Linked DNA regions of Homo sapiens: region 1 is linked to region 2. A link means that fine-mapping ties the variant in region 2 to the expression of a gene that starts in the linked region. Tissue or cell type: whole blood. Region 2 holds a variant in brackets; the other region holds the start of a gene. All regions are shown on one strand. Distances are from middle to middle.

Region 1 (10,546 bases), 68 kb before region 2:
CTCAGAGAACTGGGTACATGAAAGAGTATATAGGGGGAGGAGGATCAGATTTAGGGGTCAGATAATCAGTTTGAGTCAAAAGGGGCTTAGAGTGCTGGTGAACATTTAGGTGAAGATGTCCAGAGGACAGGTAGAAATTACGACAAAGGTAAGAGCTATCGATGCTAAATGAAGCTGGGGGAGAAACTCCTTGATCCAGCAACAAACATTTTAAAAGACAGCTGGAAAAGGAGCACATGGCAAAGAGGACAGAGAAGGAGAAGACAGAAGAAACAGAGAACCAGGTCAGCATCCGCTGCTGGTGCTGAGAGGAAGAGGAGAGTCAGAATTGAAAAGGGCATTTCTCATTCCCAAGTCGTTAGTTACCAAGGGACGATAGATGGGAGGAGCAAAAACTGAGGCAGATCCAGGCCTGGAGACACATGGAGAGAGTTGTCTTAGAATACTCTTTCAAGAAACTTATCTGGGATGAATGAGAAGACGAACTGGAGCTGGAGGTGGGACTGTGTCTTTTGAGATAGGAGCCTTGGCTGTGACCCATACAATGTGTAAGGAGAGGCATCACACCTCTTCCACCCCTACAAGTTGATACTCTCATATTTAAAATCTGAGTTAAGGCCAGGTGCGGTGGCTCATGCCTGTAATCCCAGCATTTTTGGAGGCCGAGGCAGGCGGATCACTTGCAGTCAGGAGTTTGAGACCAGCCTGGTCAACATGATGAAACCCTGTCTCCACTAAAAATACAAAAAAAAGTTAGCCAGGCATGGTGGTGTGTGCCTGTAATCCCAGCTACTCAGGAGGCTGAGGCAGGAGAATTGTTTGAACCTGGGAGGTAGAGGTTGTAGTGAGCCAAGATCACACCACTGCACTCCAGCCCAGGTGACAGAGTGAGACTCCGTTTCAATAAATAATAATAATTAATTAATTAGCCAGGCGTGGTGGCAGGCACCTGTAATCCCAGCTAGTTGGGAGGCTGAGGCAGGAGAATCGCTTTAACCCGGGAAGCTGAGGTTGCAGTGAGCCAAGATTGCGCCATTGCATTCCAGCCTGGGTGTCACAGCGAGACTCCATCTCAAAAATAAATAAATTAATAAATTAAAATAAAATCTGAGTTAAATTTAAATAATTGTGTTGTTCTGGAGATTTTTTAAAAAATATCATCACTGGTCATAAGAATTTGAGGAATAGCTAAATAACAAAACAGAGGTTTCTCTCTCTGTCTCTCTTCCTTTTTCCATAACAAGAGAAGCTCATCTTCTTATCTGGTCTGGAATCACTTGGGTGACATTTCAAAATGCAAATTAAGAGCCAGGTGGGCAGGTCCCCAATGCGTTGGGATGGGCCGCAGCTGACTGGGCAGCCTCCCTTGAGCTCCCAGGACTTTGCCGAAGGGAGTGGCGTCCATTTGCATGAGGAGCTCAGGAAAACTGCTCCTCAGGTGCCGAGTTAGAGACACCTAGTGAGCTTCACCAGAGTAGTTTTGACCAGGGATACAACAAAGCTCCTAAAACTGAAAAAGCACGAAAACAAAAATGGTTGTGAACAGGGCTCAGCGATGACGAGGCTACATTCAGCCAGTGTGTGTCTGGTGCCATGGTAGACACACCCCTGGGATCCTGCCGCCCTGGCACAGGGGGTGCTCTGGGAGACAGAGGCTGGAATTGGACTGCATTGCAGCCAGGTGGCCTTGGAGACCCAGAAGGGTGCCTCCTTGGGCAAACTTAATGTTCCCCCTAAAGAGATCCCTTTGAAGATCCGCATGGCTTTCACACAAAGGGCGTGGGGTTTAGTTCCAAAACGTAGGCTTGGGTATTATAGAATAAAAGCAAAAGAGGGCACAAGATGTGCATTTTCATTATGTTTACTTAGTGAAGGGTGGGCAGACATTTTCATTATTTTTGGGTTTTTTGTTTGTTTGTTTTTGAGACAGAGTCTTGCTCTGTAGCCCAGGCTGGAGTGCAGTGGCAAGATCTTAGCTCACTGCAACCTCCGCCTCCTGGGTTCAAGTGATTCTCCTGTGTCAGCCTCCTGAGTAGCTGCGATTACAGGCACCCATCACCACGCCTGGCTAATTTTTGTATTTTTAATAGAGACGGGGTCTCACCATGTTGGCCAGGCTGGTATCAAACTCCTGATCTCAGGTGATCCACCTGCCTCAGCCTCCCAAAGTGCTGGGATTACAGGCATGAGCCACCGCGCCCGGCCCATTTTCATTATTTTTAAACAAAGGCGAGCAATTCACTTTCTGGGTGCCCACCTGAAGTAGAGAATCCCAACCCCTTACCATGAAAACAGATAATCTGTTCACTGAGCCCCAAGGACAAAGCAGCCAGGGTCGACTGAGGGGCTACTGCAGCCTTCCTCTCTGACTCCTCCCACCTAACCATTCCCTCAATACCTCAATACACACACTCCTTTCTTTCCCAAGTCTATTGCCTCTTCCAAAAGCAATGTAAGATCCGCCCCAGAACAGTGGGGAGTTCTTATCCTTTCCGTTACCTAAGCAACCTGAGGGCAAAGACCTTTAGATCACCGGCAGTGCTGTTCTTTGGGTAACTTGATCTTTGCTTATCAGCTTTAATAACTTTATTATACGAAATACCCAGCCTTGATGAAGTATCGATGACTCACTAACTGTGGTGTAACTAATTGTTTCATTCATTCTACAAACTTTTTTTTTTTTTTTTGAGACAGAGTCTCACTCTGTTGCACAGGCTGGAGTGCAGTGGCGCGATCTCAGCTTACTGCAACTTCCACCTCCTAGGTTTGAGCGATTCTCCTGCCTCAGCCTCCTGAGTAGCTGGGATTACAGGCGCGTGCCACCACACCCGGCTATTTTTTGTATTTTTAGTAGAGACGAGGTTTCACCATGTTGGTCAGGCTGGTCTCAAACTCCTGACCTCGTGATCTGCCCACCTTGGCCTCACAAAGTGCTGGGATTACCGGCATGAGCCACCGCGCCTGGCCTCATTCTACAAACTTTTATTCTGCACTCACTATAGGCTGGGAGCTACACTAGGGCCTGGGGACATGAAGACAGGCGACACGGTCCCTGGGCTCAAGATGCCAGACAGATGTGCAAACAAGTGAAATCTGATGTGATATGTGCTTTAGTGGTGCCAAGGATAAAAGGATAAGTGTTAAGAAAAAGTAGCAACAATATGTCTGACTGGGAGAATCAAGAAAGGTGTCATAGAGTCCCTAACACTTGAGCTGAGAATGAGAAAGAGCATGAGCTGGCCAGGTGACACACAGAGCATATTCCAACCTAGGAGACTGGGAAATGGGCCAAAATATATACGTTTGAGGAAACAAATAGCTTACTATATAATTAAATATGAGGCAGTTTAGACTGGGCCCTTATGGATAAGTCACACCCATAAATTTTATTTCATCTTACAGGCAGTGGAGAGCCTCTGGAGGATTCTGAGCTTCGTGGTCTCATCATCAGAGTTATGTATGGCAACCATCCCAACCTTTTTGGCACCAGGGAGGGGTTTTGTGGAAAACTATTTTTCCTTGGACAGCAGAGGATGGTTTCGGGATGATTCAAGCACATGACACTTCTTGTGCACTTTATTTTCAGTGGGAGCCCTGAGCTTGTTTTCCTGCAACTATCTGGCCCCATGTGGGGGTGATGAAGACAACGGCAGATTATCAGGCATTAGATTCTCATAAGGAGCGCACATCCTAGATCCCTTATGTGTGCAGTTCACAGTAGGGTTTGTGCTCCTATAAGAATCTAATGCTGCCTGATCTGATAGGAGGCAGAGCTCTGGTGGTAATGCAAGCAATGGGGAGCAGCTGCACATACAGATAAAGCTTCACTAGCTCACCCACTGGTGGCTCACCTCTTGCTGTGTGTCCTGGTTCCTAACAGGCTACAGACCAGTCAGGTCTGTGGCCCGGGGGTTGGGAACTCCTGGTGTATGGAAGAGACTACTCTGCAGCAATGTGGACAAATAGGATGAGGGTGAGCTGTCAGGGGAGACAGGCACACATGGCAGAGCTATTTAAAAAGGAGGATAGATGACCAGGCACAGTGGCTCATGCCAGTAATCCCAGCACTTTGGGAGGCAGAGGCAGGCGGATCACGAGGTCAGCAGTTCAAGACCAGCCTGGCCAACATGGCAAAACCTCATCTCTGCTAAAAATACAAAAATTAGCTGGGCGTGGTGACATGCGCCTGTAATCCCAGCTACTCAGGAGGCTGAGGCAGGAGAATCACTTGAACCCGGGAGGCAAAGATTGCAGTGAGCCGAGATCGTGCCATTGCACTCTAGCCTGGGCAACACAGCAAGACTCTGACTGGAAAAAAAAAAAAAAAAAAAGGAGGATAGACAGGGCTTGGGGATTGGTGGATGGGTAGATAAGGAAGGAGGAGTCTAGCATGACTCTCAGACTACTGACTTGGACCAGCAGGGGAATGGCTGTGACAATAAATAAGATTGGGAAAACAAGAAGGTGAGCAAATTTAGAGGAGAAAATGAATTTCATTTTTGGCATGGTGTGGAAGGCTCGGGAGAGAGGTCTAGGCACCAGATGTCAACGTGAGGTGAAATGGATATAGCTGAAGTCAAGGGTGTGGTGAGGTTTTGCAGGGAGAGCAGGGACCTCCAGCAAGGCCAGTGCATAAGGGAGAATAGAGAAAAAAAGAACCAGAAAAAGACAAGGAGAGGCCAGAGAGGTGTGGAAAGAACCAGGGAAGACAGTTATTCACAACAAACAAAAGAGGGCAGAGTTTTAGAGAAGGAACTGAGCAGTTTGGGGCTCCAGGTGGGGCAGGAGTGGGTGGCCACGGTTGAGGGGCAGTGGCCTTCAAATTGGTCTGGGTAGGTTCTAATGGGTCAGATTGGTCAGTCCTTTCCAGGACACTGAAGGCTGCAGAGGTGTGACTGGATGCTGGTGGAGGGATGCATGGCGGGGAAGCTGAGTCAGATCCTGAAATCCTCCAAGCATGCGCCTGAAATGACCAAGGGAAATGAAGGCGGAGGCTGCTGTCGCCTGGTGGCCTGGGAAGGGCCAAGAGCCAGGGAGCTGGAGGGAGGAGAGAACGTGCGACCTCAGCACGGAGCACTGTAGGGGAGGCGGGGCTGGAGGGAGATGGCGCCGCGCTCCCGGATGAACAGAGAAAGCGACAGGGTGAGTCGCAGGGCACAGTGTGGGATGAGTCACCGACAGCAAGGCATGGACTCCGGGAAGAAGGGGAGACGAGCCGGGAAAGACTTGCATCGGGGATGTGAGCTGAGCTGCACCCAGACAAAAGCGGCTCGGGGCTCCTGAAAGCAGCAGGCACCGCCGGTCCTGCCAAGGGGCTACTTCCTGCGCGGAGTAGGAGAGTAGGAGACCCCAGGCCAGTCCCAATCCCCGGCCCGTCCGGGATGAGGGGGGCTGCGGGAGCTGCGGGGGCCTCCTCCAGGGAGGACGGTTGCAGGGTCCCTCGGCCGCCGCCCACTCCCGGGGGCGTTCCTTCCTCCCAGCTGCGCCCGGAGCGCCTGCTGCCTGGCGAGAGCCCGCCCCTCTGCAACCAGCCCGCTGCAGCGGAGGGCGCCTGGGTGCCCTCGGCCGAGCCAGCAGCCCACGGTCGGCGCCGCACTGTCCCCTGGTGGCGGAGCGCTCCCGCGACCCGGCTCGCCACGCCTGGGAGGGGTCCAGGAGGACGCGGCTGGGACCTGGGGGCTCTCAGGGTGGGGCCTTGGGGGATGAGGCTGGGGCCCGCGGGAAACCGGGCTGGGGCGAGGAGGCTCGCAGGACTTCCTGCCACAGAATGTTTCGATGCTTTTTTTAATTCTGCAAATGTAAGCCTTTCCACTTTAAGTCCAAGCTCAGCGCAGAGGACTGTTCTATAATACATACAATTTAGTTTAAAAATGTTGCAAATGTTAACATGTGTCACAAACTCAAGCAATCCAGTATTATAGAAAGCAAAGAATGAAATGTGCTGCTTCTTTCTCCCCCAGACGCCCTTGCATACATTAAGATATGTATATATGGAAATGTTACCGGGAGTCCCGGTTATCCCAAAAAGGGTTGTTTCCTGTTGCGTGGTGAGGCCAATGCACGAAACCGAAAGGGAGTGTGTCAAGCAGTGCAGGCTGTATTCAATGGCTATGGAATTGGAAGATCTGAAATCAACTTAGCTTGTGAGAGCTGGGAAGTTTCAGAGGTAGGGTGTCTTTAATGAAGGGGCTGGGCATTAAGAGCACGGGGGGGAATATTCGTGCTTTCCTTGGGAAAGAACGGAGATTTTTCCCGGAATCAAGAAACCCCTTTTTTTCTGTCCCTTCTTGGTCTCTTCCAGTCGTTGTCATGGCGACATGTTGTTTAGCATGAGAACAGGATGATGATAAAGCCAGAGGCTCTTCAGAGGCGCCATCTTGGATTTCGCCAGCTTCAGCTGGTTTCGTCCTAAGAAGGAACTTCGAAACACAGGCATTCTTTTTCCTGAAAATAAGCAGAGTTACAGCTGAGTAGGAATTTAGCTCTGTCCCATATGCTATCGCATTGGGCAGCAAAAGCAGGGTGGGGTCCAGCGAAATCAGCAGGCACTGCAATGAGTAACATACCCAGCCACGTTTATGCAGCATTTTTACGAAAATGAAACCATACTACCTGTAAAGGAAGATATGCTAACAAACAACAAAACTGGCAGGAACCAAGATTCCTACTGACACTACCCTTAGTTTTAATTTTCCCTGACAACAAATGAGGTTAACAGAGCATAATTATCTACCGTGACCCCTTCAAAAAGACAGGCTGTATACATTTGCACTAAGAGAAGAAATCGTGTAATGTCAGCAAATTTCCCCCACTTAAAGCTTCTCTATTTAAAAAGCTTCACGCACACATGCACGCATATGTCTTCAAGATGACCACAATTTATTTTGCAGTCATTCTTTGCACCAGTTCCCAATTTTTCCCACTAGCTTGCAAGCTCCGTGACTCGAGGAGACCGGGGGATCAGAGTTTGTTTTTGCGGAGAAGTGAGTCCTTTATGCCCCAAATAGTGACTGACATAGAGAAGGTACTCAGTAAACACTTTTTAAAGGAATGCCTGCCTGACTGAAGCTTAATGATGTGAGGCTTCTAGTGGGATACCCTACCTTGTTTTAACCTGAAGTGACTCTTCCTTAGCTAAGAGAGCCAGACGGACTCCATCGTGACTCCTTCACTCGCAGCCCCTTACCCACCCCCTTCCTCAAGGACTTAACTTGTGCAAGCTGACTCCCAGCACATCAAGAATGCAATTAACTGATAAGATACTGTGGCAAGCTATATCCGCAGTTCCCAGGAATTCGCCCGGTTAATAGCACCCAGAGCCCCTGCGTTTGTGTCCGGTTGATAACGCCCAAAGCCCGGCGTCCATCACCTTAGGATAGACTTAAAGCCTCTGCACCTGGAACTGTTTACTTTCCTGTAACCGTTTATCCTTTTAACTTTTTGCCTACTTTACTTCTGTAAGATTGTTTCAACTAGACTCCCCCTCTCCCCTGTCTAAACCAAAGTATAAAAGAAAATCTAGCTCCTTCTTCGGGGCCAAGAGAATTTCGAGCGCTAGCTGTCTCTCGGCTGCCGGCTAATAAAGGACTCCTGAATTCGTCTCAGAGTGTGGCGTTTCTCTGTAACTCGCTCGGTTACAACACTAGGTTAATCTTTTTCCTTTAACTGTTTGTTTAAAATATATTATGTTTAAGACCTTCTAACTGGTCAGCCTCCAAGATAGTATTGTGCTGGGCTTGCTTTATTCTGGTTTGGTTTCCATGATCCCAGTTCATGTGTTACCTGCTTCTCTTTTGAATTCACAATGATACACAACTTTTAATTTGTTAGAACACAAACATAAGGAATTTTTTTTTCCATTTTAATGTGAGATATGACAGAGGCAAATTGTTTCTTAAAGACATAAAATAATTAAAATAATTACATAAATTGTAATAAAATAATTATTACAATGTTCTATCTTTGGCATTAAGGCATAGAACAATTTTTTAATCCTAAACTAGGCTGGGCATGGTGGCTCACTCCTGTAATCCCAGCACTTTGGGAGGCTGAGGCTGGTGGATCACTTGAGGCCAGGAGTTGGAGACCAGCCTGGCCAACATGATGAAACCCTGTCTCTACTAAAAATACAATAAAAAATTTAGCCGGGTGTGATGGCGCTCACCTGTAGTCCCAGCTACTCAGGAAGCTGAGGCACCAGAATCGCTTGAACCCGGGACGCGGAGGTTGCAGTGAGCTGAGATATAGCGCCGCTGCTCTCCAGCCTGGGCAACAGAATGAGACCCTGTCTCAAAGTAAATTAAATAAATAAAATCCTAAACTGTAGGACCAAGATTTGATTCAGAAAAGAGACTTTCTTGTACTAATTTATACACTGTTCATGTCAGATCCAATCTTTCTTTTTATTAGATGAATCTGGAAAAGCAACTTAGAATAATTCAATCAGTCTAAAAGAATAACAGCTGATGAGATGCAGTCAATAAGCAGTTTTGTATTAGTATTTTTATAAGAAATTAGAAAAACATGATTTTGGGGGAGATCTTCTCATAGTTAACAGCACATATAACATATAAGTTAGAAATGTACTCTGCTAGCTCATAAGATTTTAAAGCAGGGATTTTAGTGTCATTAAACTTTTATTTATAATAGTTTTTTTAATACAATTTTTTTTTTTACTTTGGAATAACTTTAGATTCACAGGAAAGTCAGATAATACAGGTAGTTACCATATTCCCCTAACACAGTTTCCCCTAATGGTAACATATCACCATGGTAGTGTTGTGAATTCTTATGTTGGGTTGCCTCCACATCCATTTTGAATATACATTGGACTTTCCCACACCAAAATCAAGGCTCAGTCACCCCGGACAAAGTTGCTGGTTCTCCACCTTCTCCCAGTTCTGTTATGTGGTGGATCCAGATATCTGCCTCATACAACTATCTCCTGTTGACCACTTCTCTATGGCACAGCTAGAACCTATTGGCCACACTGACCCTCACACCCCACCTAGAATGTGCAGATGCGCCACAGGGCCCACCACTCAGTCACTGTGCCACCTCCTGGAACTCATGCCTGCTTGCTGTAAACCCACCGAATAAAACTCCCCATGGGAAACCTGTTTGGATAACACCCTGGACCCAATAAAGGTGTTGGCCCATGGGTTGCTGTCTTGGTCTCTCTGCCTGCACTCCCTGATTTCCATGAAGGTGGCCTCCAAGTATGCCATGTGCCCCAGGATCTGTAAGTAATAAACTATTTCTAGCCTGTGTCTCTCCTAATCGTTGTAGGGGTGCTCCGCATCTTGAAGATCTTAAAGTAAAACAGATACATTTGTGGAAACTAAGGTCCCAACGTTGTACATTACTATTAACTCCAGGCTTCATTTGGGTTTCAGTTTTTTCATTAATATCAGCCTAAGTTTTTAAAAAATAGTCAGCCGAAAAGAAGGATTTAATTTTATGTGGTAATTTCTGCACAAACATAATATTCTTGAGAAACATCTTGTCTATCAATAACATGTTTAACTATATATTATATCAATATGCTCAAGAAATCAGGCCTTGGTAAAGATTTTTCTTTTTTTTTTTTTTTTTTGGGACGGAGTCTCGCTCTGTCGTCCAGGCTGGAGTGCAGTGGCACGATCTCTGCTCACTGCAAGCTCCGCCTCCCGGGTTCAGGCCATTCTCCTGCCTCAGCCTCCCGAATAGCTGGGACTACAGGCACCTGCAACCACGCCCGGCTAATTTTTTGTATTTTTAGTAGAGACAGGGTTTCACCATGTTAGCCAAGATGGTCTCGATCTCCTGACCTCGTGATCCGCCCGCCTTGGCCTCCCAAAGTGCTGGGATTATAGGTGTGAGCCACCGTGCCCGGCCCCAAGATTTGTCTTTACTAAGTAATGCATGTGAAATATAATAACTGACAATGATAATACAGTGACCAGGTAACTCAAAAATTATAAGTCATTCAATTGAATAACATAGTGTTTTTGAAATGTAAAAAGATAAATATAAATAATAAGTCATATTAAGACAAAATTTATTTAACTGATAAAAGTAAAATTTGTTATTCTCTCTAGCTGTATAGATAAGACAGGATCTCTATAGTGCATTATTTCAAGACTTACTTAGTAGGAAAACCAGTAGGTTTGATTTTTTTTTAAATGCCACTTTGGTTTTAAAGCACTCGCTTTGTCCACTAGTTTTCTAGATCTGAGTATTGGCTATTAATGACATATTTCTAAATTATACACATCAATAATGTGACAATAGCTTCAGGTCAGGAACTACTGTGTGATTTAGATGTTTGTTCCTTCCAAACCTCATGTTGAAATTTGTTTCATCTTTTTTCTTGTTTTCATAGATAAGGGCCTCGCTCTGTTACCCAGGCTGGAGTGCTGTGGTGTGTTTGTGACTCACCGTAGCCTTGAACTCCTGGGCTCAAGCAATCCTCCCACCTAAGCCTCTGGAGTAGCTGGGACTACAGGTGAGCACCGCCAAGCCTGACCTCAAGTTGAAATGTGATCACCAATGTTGGAGTGGGGCT
Region 2 (10,546 bases):
CTGAGTCTGTAGCGAGGGCCATGCACTGTCTGTCTGAAAGTGCATAAGGGCTCCAGGCACAGGCTTTGTGTCCAAGTACCTTGCTGTGTTTAAGGTACATCACAGCACCGGAGAATGTGGGAGAGGTCACATTCATCCCTTCAAAGCGCAGGGAGGTTCCTATTCTGACACCAGCAACACTTACAAGAATGAACCTAAAGCTGGGCAGTGAGGAAGGAAAGGAAAAAGAAAGTTTATGAATACAGGTAGTATTGTTTGAACCGGTAAGTTGCACTATAAATCACAATAAAAGATAGTCTGTATATCACTAAAACAGAAGAGTTGGCCGCCCTGAGGATGAGGCCTTTGGGTCTCCAGGCATTTGCCAGCTCTCCTAGCCTAGGGGCAGGGGCACCTGCACAGCCCTCTGCTTTTCCTAGAATTCTCAGCAGCGAGCATGTGTCAGGGAGAGACATGGTTGTCTTAGCACTGACGCTGAAATCCTGGATGTTCTTGGGAGGGCAGTGATTGTGAAGAACAAGCTACTAGTCTAGTCCCTGGAGGTCACTCCTTAAAGCCTCCCGATGAGGCAAGTTTACAGGATCCATGCTCCCTGAGCCAGCAGTGACACCCACACTTGGCAGTGAGAAGTGGGGCTGTAACTTACAGGGTGAGCCAAAATGGGATTTATCTTAAAGGAAATTTAAGGGATCTTAAAGGAAAAAGAGAGGAGAGTGAATGACCTCATCATTAGCTGGGAGGCTCTGCAGTGCCCTGGTAGACAGTCACTGCCTGGAGGTGACTTTGTAGAAAGCAAACTTTGGCTGTCACAGCGCATAGGGAGGCCTGGGAAAGCCCAGGGAAGCAGGAGTCTGGTCGGTGAGGCCGAGGAGGAGGGCCCTTCTCCTGACCCCACGGGCGTGGCTTGGCCAGGCAGCTCAGGACTTGCTTCTCCCCACGGCTTGGCCCCCTTCTCAGGTCGCTCTCAATCTATGGGGAACCTAGAGGGAAGGAGGCTGCCCATGGCGCACACCGTGGAGGGACCCTGAGGACAGCGGAGAGCAGGTCTAAGGTGAGGCAGGTGCTCTCAGGTTAAAGATAGGGGAAGAATCTGAAGCACTATTGCAGACGGGCCCCCAGGAGGGTTAAAGGTCAAGGTGGAGGCGAAACTAAGATTGGAAGGTGAGTATGCAGCCCAGAGTCATGGAGGTTCCAGAGCGGGTGATGGTTTCTGAGAAGCTCCAGGCTCTTCACGAGTTCTTTGAAAGCCGCTGGCGTTGACTCCATTACTAGCAATGAGTGGGACACATTTCCTAACCCATACACACGTTTGTTCAGCTGGACCCCTCCTGGCAGGAGGGCTCATCTCTGGGCAGGTGCTGGGGCCACAAGACAGATACGAATGGAACTTTGTACTCTTCGGGGACGGTACGGGGGGCGGGCAAGAAACAATAAACAAGCCGGCAAAGAAAGCGCCACAAAATTCCAGGTGGCGGTAAGTACCAAAAACTATGGTACCTAATAGTGATAAGCAAATAAAGTACTCTAGCGGATCAAACAGCAGGGGAATGTTTGCTATTTTAGATAAGTGGTACCGGAAGGTGTCTCATTGCAGGGACAGTGAATGGTGACCTAGAACCTCCGGGGAGGCTGCAGGAGGGAACTGCCTCTCCCAAGTCCCTCGGTCTCCGGTAGGAGATCACTCACCCTCCAGCCAGCGCCGGCCGGGGTAGGAGCCGCAGGTCTGGGACCAGCGCCTCTGCGAGGACAGCTCTCTGAGTTGCGCCAGGTTCCAGCTACAGGGCCACGTCCCGCAGACCAGGAGCGCTGCGGCTCCGCCCTGGGGGACCAGGTACCCGCACAACCCAAGCAGCCTGGGACCAGGCCCGCGGGACTGCAGGCTTGTTTCCGCAGCGCGCCCGCCACACACAGGCCCCGCCCACGCCGAGGCCGCACCCCGCCTCTCAGCCCCGCCCACACCCCGCCTCCGGCTCCAAGCTCCGCCCACGCCACGCCACGCCACCGCAGTCCGCCTCCGGGCTCGTCTAGCCCTTCAGGGCTGGGGAGGACCCTGCTGGGTTTCGAGGAGGTGGAAACTGGACCCACAGGAATGGAGCGCGGAGGCCGGGCGCGGTGGCTCACGCCTGTAATCCCGGAGGCCGCGACGGGCGGATCACCTGAGGTCAGGAGTTCGAGACCAGCCTGGCCAACACAGTGAAACCCTGTCTCTACTAAAAATACCAAAATTAGTCTGGGCGTAGTGGGGAGCGCCTGTAGTCCCAGCTACTCGGGAGGCCGAGGCAGGAGAATTGCTTGAACCCAGGAGGCGGAGGTTGCAGTAAGCCGAGATCGTACCATTACACTTCAGCCTGAACTGCAGTGAGACTCCATCTCAAAAAAAAAAAAAAAAAAAAAAGGAGTGCTGGGACTCTGTGCGGGGAGGAGGGACGCTCCTGCTCTATGCCAACCCCCGCCCCATCCCTGGCAGATATCCAGGTTACAGAATGAGAGTCTGTAGTGCGACAAAAAGAATGAGCCACTGGTACTCCACACCCATCAGCCTGCTGGATCTCCCGGGGAGTTACGCTGGTGAGCGAAACCAATCCCAAAGATCACAGACGGGGGATCAATTTCTCCAAAGGACAGAGGAGAGAAATGCAGGACTCATTAGCTGTGCCCAGGAGTTAGGGAGGCGGCGGGTGTGTGGCTATAAAAACGCAACCCGGGGGGTGCCTGTGAAGGAAATCTGCGTCCCGCAGAACGCAACACGCCGTTGGGATACTGGACCGTCCTTTGTGAGATGCCACCATTGGGGGAAACCGGATATGCATGGCTCCAAGGAAAAAGTTCGATTAAAGGAAAGTGGTTTAAGGACAAGGAAATGGCTAGAAAATGGAAAGTCTTGGAAACAGAGCCAGTTGGGGGTTGGGAGGGCGGTGGGGGGAAAAGCAAGATAGATCAGATTGTTACTGTGTCTGTGTAGAAAGAAGTAGACATAGGAGACTCCATTTTGTGCTGTACTAAGAAAAATTCTTCTGCCTTGAGATTCTGTTAATCTATGACGTTACCCCCAACCCCGTGCTCTCTGAAACATGTGCGTGTCAAACTCAGGGTTAAATGGATTAAGGGCGGTGCAAGATGTGCTTTGTTAAACAAATGCTTGAAGGCAGCATGCTCCTTAAGAGTCATCACCACTCCCTCATCTCAAGTACCCAGGGACGCAAACACTGTGGAAGGCCGCAGGGTCCTCTGCCTAGGAAAGCCAGGTATTGTCCAAGGTTTCTCCCCAGTGTTAAGTCTTACACCTGCCCACTCAAGAGGCAGGAGTTAATCCCAGAGGTCTGTGTCCTAATGCATTATGGCAAATGGATGTCACGCATGTCCCTTCATTTGGAAGATTGTCATATGTTCATGTAACAGTTGATACTTATTCACATTTCATATGGGCAGCTTGCCAGACAGGAGAAAGTACTTCCCATGTTAAAAAACGTTTATTGTCTTGTTTTGCTGTCATGGGAGTTCCAGAAAAAATCAAAACTGACAATGGACCAGGATATTGTAGTAAAGCTTTCCAAAGATTCTTAAATCGGTGGAAAATTTCACATACAACAGGAATTCCCTATAATTCCCAAGGACAGGCCATAGTCCTTGGGTGCATGGCTCCAAAGAAAAAGTTCGATTAAAGGAAAGTGGTTTAAGGACAAGGAAATGGCTAGAAAATGGAAAGTCTTGGAAACAGAGCCAGTTGGGGGTTGGGAGGGCGGTGCTGGTGAACAGTTTAGGCCGATTGTCTTTTTTTCTAGTGTTTGCTGGCTTCTGCCCCCTCATTTGGCAGTCACCTGCCACTGTGACCTCCCCAAGACCCCTCTCCAAACTCTATACCTTGATTTCTGGTGTCCCGGAAATAGAGACCAGAAACACTGATGTCCCACTCCAACGATAGAGCAGAAGGAAGGAAGGTTTCCCCTGTGGTTTAGAACGTTCCTAACGAAAATAACTGCAACTCTTGATTGCACCTCCTGAGGGTCGTTGGGACTTTCCCTCTCAGACATTTATTGGTTCATTCATTCGTTCATTTTGCTGTAACTCACAGTGGCCCCCATCCTAAGGTGCACTGCTGGGATTGGTCTATGTGCTGATGATGTTCTCCTTGTCTTCAGA[G/A]GTGAGAATGTGCCCTCCCTCCGAGATGCCCTCTTGCCCCTGAGCTCCCCAGCAGGGAACAGGCTGCCTTGTCTTGTGAGTCCAGATCCTGGGAACAACTTTCATTTAGGAATGGAACAGCAGGTCCTGGGAGCATTGGCGCCTGCGCGCCCATCATGCGCGTGTGTGATGCAACATCACCACCTTGTGGCAGCGAGGAGCTATCACAACGTGGACTGAGCAAGTTGCTCCCTGCTTGGGGTTGGGAGCTGGACTGGCCTAGTTCCCTGGGTCTTTTTTTGTTGTTTTTGTTTTTGTTTTTGTTTTTGAGACAGAGTCTCGCTCTGGCCCAGGCTGGAGTGCAGTGGCGCGATCTCGGCTCACTGCAAGCTCCGCCTCCCGGGTTCACGCCATTCTCCTGCCTCAGCCTCCCGAGTAGCTGGGACTACAGGCGCCCGCCACCACGCCGGGCTAAATTTTTTTTTTTTTTTTTTAGTAGAGACGGAGTTTCACCGTGTTAGCCAGGATGGTCTCGATCTCCTGACCTCGTGATCCGCCTCGTGATCCTCCTGATCCTCGAAGCCGCCCGCCTCGGCCTCCCAAAGTGCTGGGATTACAGGCGGGAGCCACCGCGCCTGGCCGTTCCCTGGGTCTTTTGAGTGGTGTGAGTTGAATGGTGGTAGATTCTAGGACAGTTCAGTAGGAGCCCGTCCTCAAAAGGAAAATAACAGAACTTCCTGCTAATCTGGTATTGGGGCTGAGCAATTACTGCACACTGATGAGATTGACCATAATTGCATCCTGAGTTTGAAGAGGAGGTCACGCTACTAAGACGAGATAAAATCAGCTCCAACGACAAACATCATCTCTGGGGGTTTCCAGATTCTCAATTTTCATTTAATCCCCAGCCTTAGTGGAAAGCAAGAGTCGGAGTCGGCATTCTGGGCAGGGAGGCAGGTGAGGCAGGTACACATCTCCTCTTCTCCCCAACGCCCCATGTTTCTATTTCTGAATAAAATGAACCATCATGGTGCTAAGGTAAAGCTAAACTAGCTGAGCCACCTCCTGAAGAGGACATTGCTTTTTTTTATTTGATGAGATTTCTTTCCCTTCTGTTACCAGCATCTCCATCCCTTTGGGAAACTGACTCTTAATAACAGAGTTTTTTGTACTTTTAAACTTTGTTTTTGTGTAGTCAAATATGTACAACATAAGATATGCTGTTTTATCCATTTTTAAGTGGACAGTTCAGAAGCATTAATTACATCGACTATGTTGTGCAACCTTTCCTGCTATTTATTTCCAAAACATTTTTCAACAGAACAAATAAAAACACGGTACTCATTGTAAAATAACTTCCCATTCCCCCCTCCTTTCATTACCGGTAGCCTCTAATCTACTTTCTGTCTCTATGATTTGTCTGTCCCATGTACTTCGTATAAGTGGAATCCTACAAAATGGGCCTTTACAGTCAGCTTATTTCCCTTGAAAACCTTGTTGGCAAGTTTCATCAATGTTGTAATATGAGTCAGAATTTCACTTCTTTGTGGCCGAATATTAAAAATGCACGGGTCGTTTGAGATTTGTGAATAATGCACCAATGATTCTTGGCATATATGTATCTGTGTGACTCCCTGCGCTTAATACTGTGGGTATCTACCGAGGAATGGAATTGTTATAACAATTCTATCGTCATCCTATGTTTAGCTTTTTGAGGAATAGCCAAAATGTATTTCGCAGTGTCTGTGCAATTTTACATTCCCACCAACAATGTATGAGGGTTCCAATTTCTCCATATTTTCACCAGCATTTATTATGTTGCTTTTTTTCCCCTAAATTATAGCCATCCTAGCAGATGTGATGTGGTATTTCATTGGGTTTTTGATTTGCATTTCCCTAATGACTAATGACTTGAATCGTCTTTTCATGCATTTACTGGCCATTTGTATACCTTCCTTGGAGAAATGTCTATCCAAGTCCTTTGCTTATACTTTAATTGGATTGTTTGCCTATTCATTGTTGAGTTGTAGAAGTTCTTTATATTCTGAATTTATCAGCTATATGATTTGCAAAAATGTTCCTTCACTCTGTAGGTTGTCTTTCTTGATAATATCCTTTGATACACAAAATTTCAGATTTTAATGAAGATTACTCCCAGTGGATTTTGTTTCTTTTTGTTTTTTCATTGTTGTTTTGCAAGAGATTTTGCTATCATATCTAAGAGCCTATTACCAAACCCAAAATTATGAAGATTTGCTTCTATGTTTTCTCCTAAGAATTTTATGATTTTAGTTTTTATATTTAGTTCATTGCTTGTGAGGGTTTTTTTAATACGGTGTGAAGCAGGGTCTAACTTTACTCTTGCATGTGGAAATACAGTCCTTCCATATCATCTGTTGAAGACTATTCTTCCCTGAATTGAATACTGCTTGGCACCCTTGGCCATAGACATATGAGTTTATTGAGGATCCCTTGTACATGTCTTGCTGCTTTTATGATTTTCTCTTTGTCTTATACAGACATCCCTCATTTCATTGCATTTTGCTTTAGCGCAATTCAAAGATATTGTGTTTTTCACATATTGAAGGTCTGTGGCAACTGTGTCAAGCAGGATTTTGGGACCATTTTTCCAACAGCATGTGCTCATTTCTTGTCTCTGTGTTACGTTTTGGTAATTCTCACAATATTTCAGACATTGTCATTATTATTACATCTGTTACAGTGATCCGGGATGTTACTACTATAATTGTTTTGGGGTGCCACAAACTAAACCCATATACGTTGACAAACTTAATGGATAAATGTTGTGTGTGTTCTGACTGCTCCAGTGAGCAGTCATTTCCCATCTCTCTCCCTCTCCCAAATTCTTTGAGACAACACAACAATATTTAAATTAGGGTAGTGAAGAACCAACCCTATAATGACCTTTAAATCTTCAAATAAAAGGAAGAGTTGCATGCCTGTCACTTTAAATCAAAAGTGAAAGACGATTAAAGTTAGGAAGACATGTCAAAAGCCAAGATAAGCCATAAGCAAGACCTCTTGCACCAAACAAGCTGCCAAGTTGTGAATGAAAGAAAAAGTTATTGAAGGAAATTAAAAGTGCTGCTTTAGTGAACACATGAATGATAAGTAAAACAGCCTTATTGCTGACATGGGGAAAATTTAAGTGGTCTGTATAGATCAAACCAGCCACAGAACTCCCTTCAGCCAAAGCCGAATCCAGAGCAAGGCCCCAACTCTCTTCAATCCTATGCAGGATGAGAGAAGTGAGGAAATTGCAGAAGAAAAGTTGGAAGCTAGCAGAGGTTGGTTCTTGGTTCATGAGGTTTAAGGGAAGAAGGCATCTCTGTAACATAAAAGTGCAATGTGAAGCAGGAAGTGCTGATGGAGAAGCTGCACCAAGTTATCCAGAAGATCTAGCTAAGATCATTGATGAAGGTGGCTACACTAAACAGATTTTCAATGTAGATAAAACAGCCTTCTATTGGAAGAAGATGCCACCTAGGACTTCCATAGCTAGAGAGGAAAAGTCAATGCCTGGCTTCAAAGCTTCAAAGGATAGGCTGACTCTGTTGTTAGGGGCTAATGCAGTTGGTGACTTTAAGTTGAGACCAATGCTCATTTACCATACTGAAAATCTTAGGGCTTTAAGAATTATGCTAAACCTACTCTGCCTGTGCTCTCAGTGGAACCACCAAGCCTGGGTGACAGCATGTCTCTTTACAGCATAGGTTACTGAGTATTTTAAGTCCACTGTTGAGACTCACTGTTCAGAAAAAAAGATTCCTTTCAAAATATTACTGCTCATTGACAATGCACCTGATTACCCAAGAGCTCTGACGGAGACGTACAAGGAGATGAATGCTGTTTTCATGCCTGCTAACACAACGTCCATTCTACAGCCCATGGATCAAGGAGTAAATTCAACTTTCAAGTCTTATTATTTAAAAAATACACTTCCGGCCGGGCGTGGTGGCTCACGCCTGTAATTCCAGCACTTTGGGAGGCCAAGGCGGGTGGATTAACCAAGGTAGGGAGTTCGAGACCAGCCTGGCCAACATGGGGAAACCCCGTCTCTACTAAAAATACAAATATCAGCTGGGCGTGGTTGCGGGCGCCTGTCATCCCAGCTACTTGGGAGGCTGAGTAACGAGAATCGCTTGAACCCGGGAGGCGGACGTTGCAGTGAGCCGAGATCGCACCACTGCACTCCTGCCTGGGTGACAAGAGTGTGACTCCATCTCAAAATAATAATAATAATAATAATAATAATAATAATAATAATAATGATAATGATAATAATAAACACAAAATAATTTTTAAAAGGCTATTAGCTGCCAGATATAGTGATTCCTCTGGTGGATCTGGGCAAAATAAATTGATAAATTGCTAGAAAGGTTCTCACCACTCTTGATGCCATTAAGAACATTTGTGATGCGTGGAAGGAGGTCAAAATGTCAACATTAACAGGAGTTTGGAAGAAATTAATTCCAACGCTCATGGAAGACTTTAGGGAAGGAAGTAGCTGCAGATATGGTGGAAATAGAACAGAACTAGAATTAGAAATGGAACCTGAAGATGTCACAGAATTGCTGCAACCTCATGATAAAACTTTCACAGATGAGGAGTCACTTCTTATGGATGAGCAAAGGAAGTGGTTTCTGGAGATGGAATCTGCCTCTGGGGAAGATGCTGTAACCACTGTTGAAATGACAACAGGCCGGGTGTGGTGGCTCACACCTGTAATCCCAGCACTTTGGGAGGCCGAGGCCGGTGGATAACCTGAGGTCAGGAGTTCGAGACCAGCCTGGCCAACATGGTGAAACCCTGTCTCTACTAAAAATACAAAAATTAGCCAGGTGTGGTAGCACATGCCTGTAATCCCAGCTACTCGGGAAGCTGAGGCAGGAGAATTGCTTGAGCCTGGGAGACGGAGGTTGCGGTGAACTGAGATTGTGCCACTGCACTCCAGCCTGGCTGACAGAACGAGACTCTGTCTCAAAACAAACAAACAAAAACCAAAAGATTTAGGATATAACAAAGTAAGTTGATAAAGCAGTGGCAGGGTTTGAGAAGATTGACACCAATTTGAAATAAGTTCTACTGTGCATAAAATGCTATCAAATGGCGTTACATGCTACAGAGAAATCTTTCATAAAAGGAAGAATCAATTGATGAAGCCAACTGATTTTAAAAAATTGCCGGCCAGGCACGGTGGCTCACGCCTGTAATCCCAGCACTTTGGGAGGCCGAGGTGGGTGGATCACGAGGTCAGGAGATCGAGACCATCCTGGCTAACACGGTGAAACCCCATCTCTACTAAAAATACAAAAAATTAGCTGGGCGCAGTGGTGGGCGCCTGTAGTCCCAGCTACTGGGGAGGCTGAGGCAGGAGAATGGCGTGAATCCGGGAGGCGGAGCTTGCAGTGAGCTGAGATAGCGCCACTGCACTCAGGCCTGGGCGACAGAGCGAGACTCTGTCTCAAAAAAAAAAAAAAGAAATTGCCACAGCCACTCCAGCCTTCAGCAACCACCACCTTGATCAGTCAGGTTCATTAACATTGAGGCGGGCCACTCCACCAGCAAAAAGATTATGACTCACTGAAGGCTCAGATGACTATCATCATTTTTTTTAGTGATAACATGTGTTATGATTAAGGTATCTACATTTTTGAGACATAACGTGCACTTAATACACTGCAGTATAGTATATAACTATTATATGCATAGGGCTGCTAAAGCGTTGCGTGATTTGCATTATTGTGGTATTCGCTTTATTGTGGTGGTTTGGAACCTACCCCACAATATCTCTGAGGTATGCCTGTATATTGCTGGCAGGAATGTAAAATTGCACAGTAGCTTTGCAAAAACAAGTTTGGCAGTTCTTCAAAAAGTTAAATATAGAGTTATACCATATGACTCACCAATTCTACCCACTGGTATATATCCATGATAAGCTCAAGAAAACATACCTCTATACATATATTTATACATGAATGTTGATAGCAGCATTATTCATAAATATATTTATACATGAATGTTGATAGCAGCATTATTCATAATAGCCAAAGATGGAAAAAACCCAAATGTCTGTCAATTGAAAGGGTAAACAAAATAGATATATGTATACATATTATTATATTATTCAGCCATAAAAAGAAATGAAGCCTGACAAATGCTACCTTGAACCATCATGAATGAACCTTTAAAACATTATGCTAAGTAAAAGAAGCAGCCACGAAAGACCACATATTGTATGGTTCATTTTGCATGAAATCCCCGAAATAGGAAAATCCAGAGACAGAAAATAAATCTGTGGTTGCCAGGGATTGTGGGAAGGAGGAAATGGAGAATAATTGCTAATGGGTATCACAGTTCCTTTTAGGGTGATGAAAATCTTCTGGAGTTAGATAGTGGTGATAGT

The links. PIP is the estimated chance that this variant, and not a neighbour inherited with it, causes the effect.
Region 1: it holds the start of LINC01011, and the variant in region 2 is fine-mapped to the expression of LINC01011 in whole blood (TOPMed, PIP above 0.99).

Annotation. Positions count from the first base shown.
Region 1 is chr6:2,983,568-2,994,113 of GRCh38, forward strand. LINC01011 (long intergenic non-protein coding RNA 1011) reads left to right here and starts at 4,400. Exons shown (of 3, transcript NR_026856.1): 1 at 4,400-4,464; 2 at 5,961-6,166; 3 at 6,302-7,604. It overlaps NQO2-AS1 (NQO2 antisense RNA 1), which reads right to left. Exons shown (of 2, transcript NR_186367.1): 2 at 5,769-6,444. RefSeq lists enhancers at 4,342-5,151, 5,152-5,961, 5,962-6,771, 6,335-6,494, 6,772-7,579 and silencers at 5,345-5,764, 10,346-10,530.
Region 2 is chr6:3,051,884-3,062,429 of GRCh38, forward strand. LOC124901242 (a long non-coding RNA gene) reads left to right here and starts at 3,205. Exons shown (of 2, transcript XR_007059409.1): 1 at 3,205-4,141; 2 at 4,616-5,474. RefSeq lists a silencer at 1,810-2,039 and an enhancer at 2,652-3,444. The variant G/A (reference allele first, on the strand shown) is at 4,141.